3 linked regions of the Homo sapiens genome follow. The protein of the gene in region 2 purifies or fractionates together with the protein of the main gene of each other region. This does not show direct contact. Each region holds a gene or a part of one and is shown on either strand. Other genes may lie near its edges.

Region 1 (3,500 bases), on a different chromosome or scaffold from region 2:
AAGCAAAATTAACAAAGGTCAACCAACTAGTGTTCTTGTTTCGTTCTAGGAAAACAGTGAGTCCAGGGCTGACAGGAAGCGGAACTGGAAGGGCAGCGGGGCAGAGGGCACTGACTCCATCACGGTGTGAGGAGCAGCAGCTCAGGGCCGACTGGGACCAGAAATGCTAGATTTTTATTTCTTGGGGACAGGCAGTGCAGGAGGGAGGCTGTGTGGGAATACTCCGAGGAGCAGGGTCGCTCTGAGTTTCACCTGTTCCTGCCGTTTTCCAGGTGGTTCTTTAGATCACAGGGTCGGAAGGAGGCTGAGAGGCAGCTTCTTGCTCCAATCAACAAGGCCGGCTCCTTTCTTATCAGAGAGAGTGAAACCAACAAAGGTAGGCTTGGTGGCTTTGCCTGCCTTCCTTGCCCTGCTCCTCCCGGGAAGGCGCCTCCAGAGGCCTGGCCCTGGAGTGAGAGGGGAAGGGGTGACTGCCAGGAGAACCAGCAGCTTCCGGGCTTGTGTCCCTCCCAATTCAGGCCCTGCCCGGGAGTTGACATGGGGGCTGTCCACACAGTCCTCCCTGTCCCGGCTGGAAACCACCTGGGCACAGGAAGCCGGGTGGACAGGGGTGGTCCCACGCCAGACTGGCCCTGCTGCCCAGTCAGCAGGAACACCGAGGCCAGTGGGGGCCAGGGAAGGGGGAACCCTGAGCCCTTAACCACCAGCCTCTTTGGAATCAAGGATTAGGGGGAGCTCAAAGAATCCTTCAAGATCATCTCAGCCAGAGGCTGCAGGTAGCATATGTTAGGAAGTGGCCTGTGCCGTGATGTAAGAGAAGAGGGTGGTAATTGAGGGGAGCCCATGCCAGTCTAGACACTCATGAGTTCAAATCCACTGACTGAGCAAAACAGCTGCCATCACCCTCAGGGGTTTTCTCTCTTTCTCTGTCATTTGGCTTTCTTTCCTTCTTAATTTTTTTGGTGTAAAATATAAAACACATATAAAGCTTGCATGAAGTATGAATGTGTAATTCTAAATCATATAGGGTAATAATAAACAAATCCCTGTGTAATGACAGCCAAGAGAAAGAGCATCCCAGACCACCAGGAGCCCCCTCACTCCCCCACTTGGGCTCCTTCCTGATTCAACCCCCACCCTCAAGAGCTACCTGCTGTCCTGACTTGGATGGAAATCCTTCCTTGCTCTTCTCTGTGGTTTCGCCACCATGTCTTGTCTGTTTTTTCAGCTTGATGTAGATAGAATCACTGTTTTTGTTTCTGTGTGTCTTGCTTCTGTCACTCAGCAGTGTTTGTGGGATTCTATGTTAGTTTCCTGGGCTGCCGTAACAAAGTGGCACAGACTGGGTGGCTTCCACCACAGAAGCTTATTATCTCACAGCTCTGGAGGCTGGAAGTCCACGACCAAAGTGTCAGCAGCGTTGGCTCCTCCCGGGAGCTCTCTCCTTGGCTTGCCGATGGCCGTCTTCTCTGTGTCCTCACGTGGCCGTCCCTCCATGCATGTCTGTGTCCTAATCTCTTCTTGTAAGGACACCTGTCAATTTGGATTAGGGCCCACCCATATGACCTCATTTTAACTTAATCACCCCTTTAAAGGCTCTGTCTCCACATATAGCCACATTCTCAGGACCGAGGGTTAGGACTTTAACATATGAATTGGGAGCGCACATGATTCAACCAGTAACAGATTCATTCATGTGGTTGAGGATGGTGAGCCTGTTCATGTTCATTGCTATACAGAATCCCGGGTGTGACCATTCCAGAGTCAAGTTAGCCATTCTCATGTTGTGGGCATTGAGTTGTTTCCAGTTTGGGGCTGTTAATGCATGTGTTGCACCGAACCCTATTATGGTCCCTGGTGCTCACTGGCCACTAGCTTTTCGTCTGTAAGATACTAATCCACTTGACAGATGAGGAAAGGGAGTCCCTGAAACAGGAAGTGACTTGCTGGGGGCCAACAGTAAGCATCAGAGCCCAAAGCACCAGTGACCACATCATCTAAGAGGCTGAGAGGCTTCCCAAGCTCTACAACGTGGCAAGCTAGGGTGACCCAGGGGCTTCCCAGGCAGTATGAAGAATGCTTTGCTCATCAGGAAGCTGTCCACAGGGACCAGGTACAGCCTTGTAGCCAATTTTAACTGGAGAGGAGATGGTGACAGTGACATCAGAGGAGGAAAGGGAGAGAGAGTGTCTGGAATATGAGTCTGGTTCCCTGTGGTTGGGGCGATGAGAATGGACAGAGTTGTCACCTGGTGGGAGCACCCTTGGGCTGTCCATTGGTTCCATCTGTGGCTCAAGAACAGCAGCCAGAGTGGAAACCCAGAGTATGAAAAGCTGTCATAGCACCCTGTGATTCTCTGGGGACATCATGAGGCCTTGGTGCCCCACAAAGGGGCAGGACCAGGTTGGGGAGCAGGAAGGGTGCATTGGAAAGCTGGGGTGCTCTGTGCAGGATTTCTTGGAATATGCCAATGAATGCATATACATACATATACATACACATAGATATATGCATTTTATATTTATATTCATATTGGATATTGTCACTATTTCATTTTTGTGGCAGAGCACCTCTGTACAAGAAATAATTTGGGAATCACTGGAGATGACATAAGTGTTTTATTGTTGTTCCAGGACATTTCAAACATACACAGAAGTAGAGAAAATAGTTTAGTGGAACCCCTGGTACCCAACAGCCAGCTTCAACAATTATCAACTGAGCCAGTCTTGTTTCATCTGTATCTCCCGCTCCACCCCTGTTCTTTCGAAGTAAATCCCAAACATCATGTCATGTCACCCTGGAAATGATATTTCAACCATTGCCTATTGCTAAGGTGAAAGCCTCCCCACCCCCTGCCCAATCTGGTGTGGAGGAAGAAGGGGTTCTCTATGAGTCTGGCATCTTTTCCTGTCCATGTCCACCCCAGGAAGCCAGTCCAAGCTGGGAATAGGCCATATGGGACCAGGGCTGCAGGACTGTTCAACCATCATCACCACCACACGCACATACACATGCACACATGAACACACATGCACATATGCACAAATGCACACATATACACACATGTGCATACACAGGCATGTGTGCACACATACACATGCAAACACATACACATGTCCACGCATGCACATATACACACACACGCACACATATACATGTGCACATATGCACAGATGCAATGAACACGTGTGCAACACATGTACACACCTTACACGTACATATGCACACACACACACAACTCCAAAGCAAGACCCCTCTGCTTCTCCGAGCCACAGCAGTGAATGCAAGACAGGGATGGAAGCAGGGGAGTGAGTTCTACCCTTCGTGGCCTCCGGGGTGTCCTTGAGCCTCTCAAGCCTCAGTTTACTGGTGTCTATGTGAGGATAGACTAGTTTCACAGCTCAAAGGCAGGCGGTCCTTCAGTGCTGAGAAATCTTCATCTCAGAGCCAGGCCCTGCCTGCCCAGGGCAGTCCAGACATACCACAGAGGCAGGGGATCC
Region 2 (3,730 bases):
ATGAAAGTCAATGCTTTCTCTCTCTCTCTCTCTTTTTTTTTTTTTGAAACAGGGTCCTGCTGTCACCCAGGCTGGAGTGGTGCAGTGGCACAATCTCAGCTCACTGCAACCTCCGCCTCCCGGGCTCAAGTGATCCTCCCACTGCAGCCTCCAGAGTAGCTGGGATCACAGGTGCACACTACCACGCTCAGCTAATTTTTGTATTTTTGGTAGAGATGGGGTTTTGCCCAGGTTAGTCTTGAACTCCTGAGCTCGCGTGATCCACCTGCCAGCCTGCCAACGTGATGGGATCACGAGTGTGAGCCACCAGGCCAGGCCCGTCAGTGCTTTCTCTGACCACAAGATGCTTTGGTTTTGTAGATAATATTAGTTGATATTATGACAAAATCATGTATTTTTATTTGAGGGACAACGCCATTCTGGGCTTTCATAATAAAATGATGTAGTTCTCATCTCTCTGAGAAAGCGCATGTAGAGCAAACTGGCAAAGTTCAAAATATCACACCAAAGCAAGTCAAGCTAAACATACATGGGGAATTCTGACTCTTTTTAAAATGCAGCCGAATAACACTATTTGTTTTCCATTAGGAATATATTAGCCATCTGACCAAGATGAGAAGTAACTAAATGTAAATTGATAGAGTGCTTTTCTTTAAAAATCAAACAACATAAATTTTGTACATATAACTGAGTCTTGTGTATCCATCAGTCATTTAATGAAGCTGCACTTATTCCAGTGGTGTTGGCAGACCTCAGCAGCTCTCTGGGATTCCTCATTTTAAAAAGCATCTTTGGCCAGCATCATTATTTCATTATAACACTTTGTTTTTGACATCCAATAGTCTTACTCAGCTCTATCACCACCAGCCTCCTAGTCTCAGTCTTAAATCTATCTTCAAATGACGAGGAAGAATGAGAGGGAAAATAAAGAAGGAGAGACAAAGAAGAAGAAAGAACACAGGATTGCCAGTTGTGGCCTTGGGGCTTCCCCTGTGGTGGCAACTAAGCTAGGGACTGTCAATTATTCTAGATCTGTCTGCCTGAGAGCTCAGGAAAGCCAGACTGTAGTGTGGAGAGAGTTATAGGGAGAAGAAACCACTGTGTCACTCCTGGGCTTAGTCCACAGTCTGAGCTGTTTCTAAGCATCTCAGACAGAGGCCCCAAAGTCCTTGAACTGGAGGCAATTGGAAAGCAACTGCTTTGATGAGGATTGCTGATTAGAGAGAGCTCCTGGAACAAGAAAAGGAGGCAAGAGGACATCCTCAAGGACTCCCACTGGAAATAGAATTTGGTGACTCAGAGTGTCCTAAGTTCCAGAAGTTGCAGTAGAATGAGAAGGCATGTGTGTATGTGTGTGTGTGTGTGTGTGTGTGTGTGTGTGCGCGCGCGCGCGCATGTGTGCCTGTGTCTTTTTGGCCTGTGTGTGCATGTGTCTTTTTGGCCTAGCTGGTAAAAGGTGTCATGGGTTGAATTGTGTTCCTCAAAAAGATATGTTCAAGTCCTAATCCCTGGTTCCTGTGAATGTGACCTTATTTGGAAATCGGGTCTTTGCGGATGTAATCATGTTAAGATGAGGTCATGCTGGATTGGGGTGGGCCTTAATCCAACGACTGGCATTCTTATAAGGAGAGAGAAATTTGGACACACACACAGGATGAAGGCCATGTGAAGTGAAGGCAGAGGTTGGAGCGATGCATCTACAAGCCAACAAATGCCAAGGAATATCCACAACACCTGGAAGCTGGTAAAGACAAGGGTGGATCCTCTCCAAGAGCCATCAGAGAGAGCATAGCCAGCACCTTGATTTTAAACTCCTAGCCTCCAGAATTGTGAGAGAACAAATTTCTATTGTTTTGAGCCATCCAATTTGTGGTCATTTATAATGGCATTCCTAGGAAACTAATACAGAAAGGGAGAGGAAATAGCCCAATTCTCCCCAGTGTCAGGGACAGGCAAGGGCAGGATTTATCAGAATGAAATAGACCTGAAAATGGAGGCAAGAAAAGAAGCAGAGGATGGGTCATTCTGCTCTCTTTAGGTTGTGAATAGCCTAAATCCAAGAATGAAAATTCTTTTTTTTGAGATAGGGTCCCAATCTATTGCCCAGGCTGGAGTGCAGTGGCACGATCTTGGCTCACTGCAGCCTCTGCCTCTTGGCCTCAGCCTCCTGAGTAGCTGGGACTACAGGTGCACGCCACCATGCCCAGCTCATTTTCATATATATATAAATATTATATAATTTATATTTATATATAATATATAATATAAATATTATATATAAATATTTATATATTATTTTTATATTTATTATTTATAATTTATTATTTTTAAATTTTATTATTTATAATTATTATTTATTTATTATATTAAATATTTATATATAAATATTTATATATAAAAATAGGTATATACACACACACACACACACACACACACACACACACACACACATATGTAGAGACAAGGTTTCGCCATGTTGCCCAGGCTGGTCTCGAACTCCTGAGCTCAAGTGTTCTGCCCACCTTGGCCTCCCAAAATGCTGGAATTATAGGCATGAGCCATTGTGCTTGGCCAGAATGAAAACTCTTTATACAGAACTTGACCTAGCACCAAGCATTTATATCTTTTTTATCTACTTTTACCATGATATATGCTGATGAACTTTTGCCTGGGTCGGGTCCCTCCACCAACTGTTACTGCCCAAGCTTGTTCTTGTGGTCACTGGGTACTTTGCCGCCTTATCTCACCAGGGCTGTGTTTTTCTTCCAACACAAGTTTGATATCCTCACAACTGGCAAGGGTGAGATGGAGGGCAAAGTTGCCACTACCTGTCTACCCAACTCTCCTCCTTACCTGTGCGAACCCCATACTTCAAGGTGTCTCTGCAGTCAACCAGGATCTGCTCCAGGGACTCGGGGTGGTCAGAGAGCTCCAAGTTGAAGCCCTCCATGCCTTCCAGCAACTGGTGTGGGTGATGAAAGTCCAGCACCTTGGTGGAGCGATCAAATGTCTTGCGGACATAGTTGAGGAGTATGTCCACCACTTCCAGGAGGAATTGCACGGTTTGCTCCTCACCGTTCTTAGCCGGAAGCAGATCTGAATTGGGGAGAGCAATGAATGGTTTTCACCTGACTCATATCTAGATTTCTTCAGCCCAGAGACCCCTAATATTAACCATGCTATCTGTATAGGCCTGATTTCATTCTGGGATATGTATGTGCACTGAGAATCGGATATACCACATCTCCAGAAAAATGCACATACACAGAAGTTTTGCACATGCTTCCTGGGGGTTCACAGCCTTTCTGACAGGCTGCTCAGACATGGAATGAAGTGCTCTGAGACGCCGTGAACAACCTGCGACTGCGGTTGTCATCTGCAGGTTGAATGGGCACCTGTGAGGAGTGTGATGGAGGGGGCATCTGTCGTGCTCCCCTGGGACCAGGTGTGTCCCTGTCTATCTGGTTTGGTGTTGTGATGTGCTTGGTCTGTTGGCATCAGAGGGTAAGGCCTCTGTGGGTAGAGGCTGGGGTTCCCCCTGAGGAGGGTGGTCCTTGGCGGTGTCCTTCGACAGGAAACTGGAGCTGGAAGATGGGGCTCAAGAAGGTGGGACAGGGAACCCCTGCCTCTTTCTTGACCCCACCCTTTTGGGCCTGGACTTTGAGATATCCAGAGGTGACTTTGGGTGACAGGCTCTGCAGTAGTCAGGCTAGAGGTTAGGCAGGGAAAA
Region 3 (3,730 bases), on a different chromosome or scaffold from region 2:
ACCCCGTCTCTACTAAAAATACAAAAATTAGCTGGGAATGGTGGCTGCACATCCCAGGTACTCGGGAGGCTGAGGCAGGAGAATGGCATGAACCTGGGAGGTGGAGCTTGCAGTGAGCCAAGATGGCACCACTGCACTCCAGCCTGGGTGACAGAGTGAGACTCCGTCTAAAAAAAAAAAAAAAATGCTTACACCCTTTAAGTTAGTAATTTCACTTGTAACAATCTGTCCTAAGGAAGCACGCTTAAAAAAATGCTGACAGAGATTCACTGCAACATTATTTATTATGGTGAAAAACCAGAAAATACCTAATATCACAAAATAGTTCATTAAATTATAGGACTTTTTCTGTTGTTTTTTGGAGACAGAGTCTCACTCTGTCACCCAGGCTAGAGTGAAATGACGTGATCTCAGCTCACTGCAACCTCTGTCTCCTGGGTTCAAGCAATCTCCTGCTTCAGCCTCCCCAGTAGCTGGGATTACAGGAGCCTGCCACCACACATGGCTAATTTTTTGTATTTTTAGTACAGAGGAGGTTTCGCCATGTTGCCCAGGCTGGTCTCGAACTCCTGAGCTCAGGCAATCCGCCCACCTCGGCCTCCCAAAGTGATAGGATTTTAGGCGTGAGCCACCATGCCCAGCCAAATTATGGGATTTTAAAATAATGGAATCTTATACAGTCATGAAAAATTATGTTTCAAATATTCATGCTTGAAATATATCAGGAAAAGACTCATGTTAACAAATGACAAGGCAAGGAAATTACATACATGATGTGATCAACTATGTAAAAACCATATTACAGAAAGAAGACTGAAGAAATGTTTAAACTTTATTTGCATTTTTTTGTATTTAAAAATTTTAATGAATAACCTGTATAGGTGGAAAGTATTACTTAAAAAAATGAAAAGCATGTAATCAGGACTTCCTAACTCGGCCTCCCCTGTTCCCATTACTCTAACTTTCGCATGCACACACACGTACCTTGTAGCCTCCAATTCTGTGGTCAGGTTTGAATTCTTTGCCATTTTTCAACCAGCGCAGTGTGGGGTTTGGGGTCCCACTGGAAGGGCATTTGAACTTCACTGTCTTGGCAGCCGGCACTGCATGCAATTTCTTTTCCATCTTTTCTGGGGATGTCCAATATGGAGCTACGGCTGCCCGGGGAAAGCCAAGAGAGACAGGCAGGGTGGAGAGGAGCAGCTGGTCAGGCTCAGGAGCAGGGCCCAGGCCAGGACCTGGAGGTGTCTTGCCCATCTGCCCAACACCTGTGAGCAGTGCCTGGCACTTAGCAGAACAGGCACCGTGACCCCATGTGCCCTCCTCTTCCTCCCCTTTCAGCCTTCCCCTCCCCTCTTAAACCCAATGCCCAGACCCAAAGGGCAGTAAGATAGGAAACAGTGTCTCACGCATACGGTTTGGTTTGGTGTTATCTGTTTCTTTCTCCTCTGAAGAGGAGTCATCATCATCATCATCATCCTCCGAGGAGGGGAGAGCATCTATGGGAAGAAGAAGGGGCACTGAGGTTCCTCCTAGGGACCCCTAGATTTCACCAAGGCTAGTGCAGTTCCAGATGAACACGGACACCCTCCCCATGGGGATCCCAGTCCCACTGCTCCCTTAGTGATGATCTCTTGGTGGGATGGAAACTGTTTAAGAACAGTTCCTGTGCGTGTTTGCTTCCTTCCCCGAAGCACTGCCCCCACTGCCTGGAAGCCTTCACACTGGGTGGTTCCATCAGGGTCAGCTGTTCCTATTTAACTTAATTCCGTCCTACATTCAAAGGCGCTTTCTCAACTTGTGGTGCCACCTGGGTGTGCTGGAGCCAGGCAACCTGTATTCTTCTTTGGACGGCTGACTATAGGGAAACCCAGGCAGGTCTAGACACACTGTGGCTAGATGCTATTTCCAAAGGATGGGCTAAACACCCCACAGTCAGAATTTTTCTAGCATGTGTCTACTAAGGTTTGGGGGCTGCCCTCCTTAATCAGAGCAGATAGGGCACCCACCACCCCAGCAGCTGCCAACACCTCTCCCCAATAAGTATTTATTTCTTGTAAGAACACGCTTGATACACATGTGGTCACCCATCAGGGTTCATGCCAGATCTTTCTCCAGTCCTTCCTATCACCTTTGGGGATCTGCTGCCAAGTCCACACCCTGAGGTGCATAAATGGCATAAAGAAAATTTCAGCTCCACTTCCTCAACTCCTAGTTTTGTGAAAGTCACATTCTAAGAGTGGCAAGTTCCCAAGTTCACAGAGCTCCAGGGCTCCCTGGCTGCCCTCGCACAGCTCCCTTGCGGTGCACCTGGGTTCCTCTCCAGCAGAGCAGGGATACCACCACCTGTTCAGGGCCTCTAATCACTAAGCCGAGTACCAAGTCCAAATGGCAAGGGAGTGATGGAGTGGAAGCTGGCCGAGCACCACTTAGCCTCCTGGAGATCTGGGCAAGCTGTGGTGGAAAAAAATCACAGGGTCTTAACATCCCAAGAGCCCTGGCAATCACCTCCGAGGTGTGTCCTGGAAGCCCCAGATCTCCGGCCCTGGGGCCCACCCCACCTAGTCACCTCTCTGAGAGCCAAGCCACGCGGCAGGCAGGGAGCAATGTTAGTGGGCAGCAGTTTCTGAAGCAGAGTGGGGGCAGATCACGGAGGGGGAGGAGGTTCACCTTCCTCTGAAACTGGCAGAGAGGGCTGGAGGGGGTGGGTCTAGGGAGGGGCAAGGGCAGGGCTTGGCTACCAACCTGAAACATTGACGGAGAAGTAGGTGGTGTCACTGCCCGAGGGGCTGCTGGTTACGCAAGCATAGAGGCCGGAGTCTGCGGGCACGGAGTCCTGCACCTCCACCTCCTCCCCTGTGATGCGGGTGCGGTTGCTTTCCGCCAGCTGCACCCCGTCCCGCAGCCAGTTGATGCTCTGCACATCGTCCCGCAGCCGACAGCGAAGCTGCAGCAGGTCACCGGGGTGGACCAGGAAGGACTCCACTTCCACAGGGGCTCCCCAGGGCTGGGCTGCAGCCACCACGGGGCCGGGAAGGGAAGCCAAGGGGCGAGAGAGGAAGACAGGGAGAGGGGAGGAGGGGAGAGACAAAGGGAATTACGCTGGCCACACGGAGCCGCACCATCCTGGGCATCACTTACTGGAGGCTACTGAGCCAGGGCAGTGGGAATTGGAGCATGGGTCAGTGGGGAAAACAGCTGGCTGCCTGGGAACCCCCATCTCTTTTCCACCCCACTCCTCCAAAAGTCAAAGGAAGAAAGAGGCAAAGTTAGGAAGCAGCTGTAGCAGCATTAAGCGCATTTCATTTCCCCCATCCTAAGGGGAAAGGTCGGCCCTCCCCAGGACTTCTTTGTGTCCGGAGTTGCCCCCTCCCCAGATGCTCAGTTCTTTGCCAAGATTGCCACTTGCCAGAGGAACACCCCATTTCCTTTGGGATAGCTCAGCCTCACCCTTCCCTAGCAACAGCTGAACAAACCCCGCCCCTCAAAACCCCAGCAGCCCCTGCCCAAGTCGAGAGAAGGCAATTTGTCAACTGGGGGCTGACCAGGATGCGTGTGATTCGGAGAGGGTGGGGGTCTGGCCCTCGACGCGTCAGATGCACATGCTGGGGGGGCAGCCCAAGGAGAGGTCAGCTCAGGGAACCTCTCGCTAACAGGTGTCAGGGCAGGGGATTTGGAGCTGTTGACTATATTAGGACGGGAGGCCACAGCTGCCATAAAACCCACACTT

What was found.
Region 1: the proteins of GAD1 (region 2) and BLK purify together in Homo sapiens (affinity purification with mass spectrometry; one large-scale study listed by BioGRID and IntAct). This does not show direct contact.
Region 3: the proteins of GAD1 (region 2) and FGFR1 purify together in Homo sapiens (affinity purification with mass spectrometry; 2 studies listed by BioGRID and IntAct, with this or other methods). This does not show direct contact.

What each region holds. Positions count from the first base shown.
Region 1 is NC_000008.11:11,549,887-11,553,386, forward strand, and holds part of BLK (tyrosine-protein kinase Blk), read left to right. Parts: intron 1-272; coding exon 273-376; intron 377-2,599; exon of another isoform or gene 2,600-3,500. UniProt on the Homo sapiens protein: Non-receptor tyrosine kinase involved in B-lymphocyte development, differentiation and signaling. B-cell receptor (BCR) signaling requires a tight regulation of several protein tyrosine kinases and phosphatases, and associated coreceptors.
Region 2 is NC_000002.12:170,830,316-170,834,045, reverse strand, and holds part of GAD1 (glutamate decarboxylase 1), read right to left. Parts: intron 3,097-3,730; coding exon 2,854-3,096; intron 1-2,853.
Region 3 is NC_000008.11:38,426,937-38,430,666, forward strand, and holds part of FGFR1 (fibroblast growth factor receptor 1 isoform 1 precursor), read right to left. Parts: intron 3,013-3,730; coding exon 2,746-3,012; intron 1,500-2,745; coding exon 1,410-1,499; intron 1,158-1,409; coding exon 985-1,157; intron 1-984. UniProt on the Homo sapiens protein: Tyrosine-protein kinase that acts as a cell-surface receptor for fibroblast growth factors and plays an essential role in the regulation of embryonic development, cell proliferation, differentiation and migration.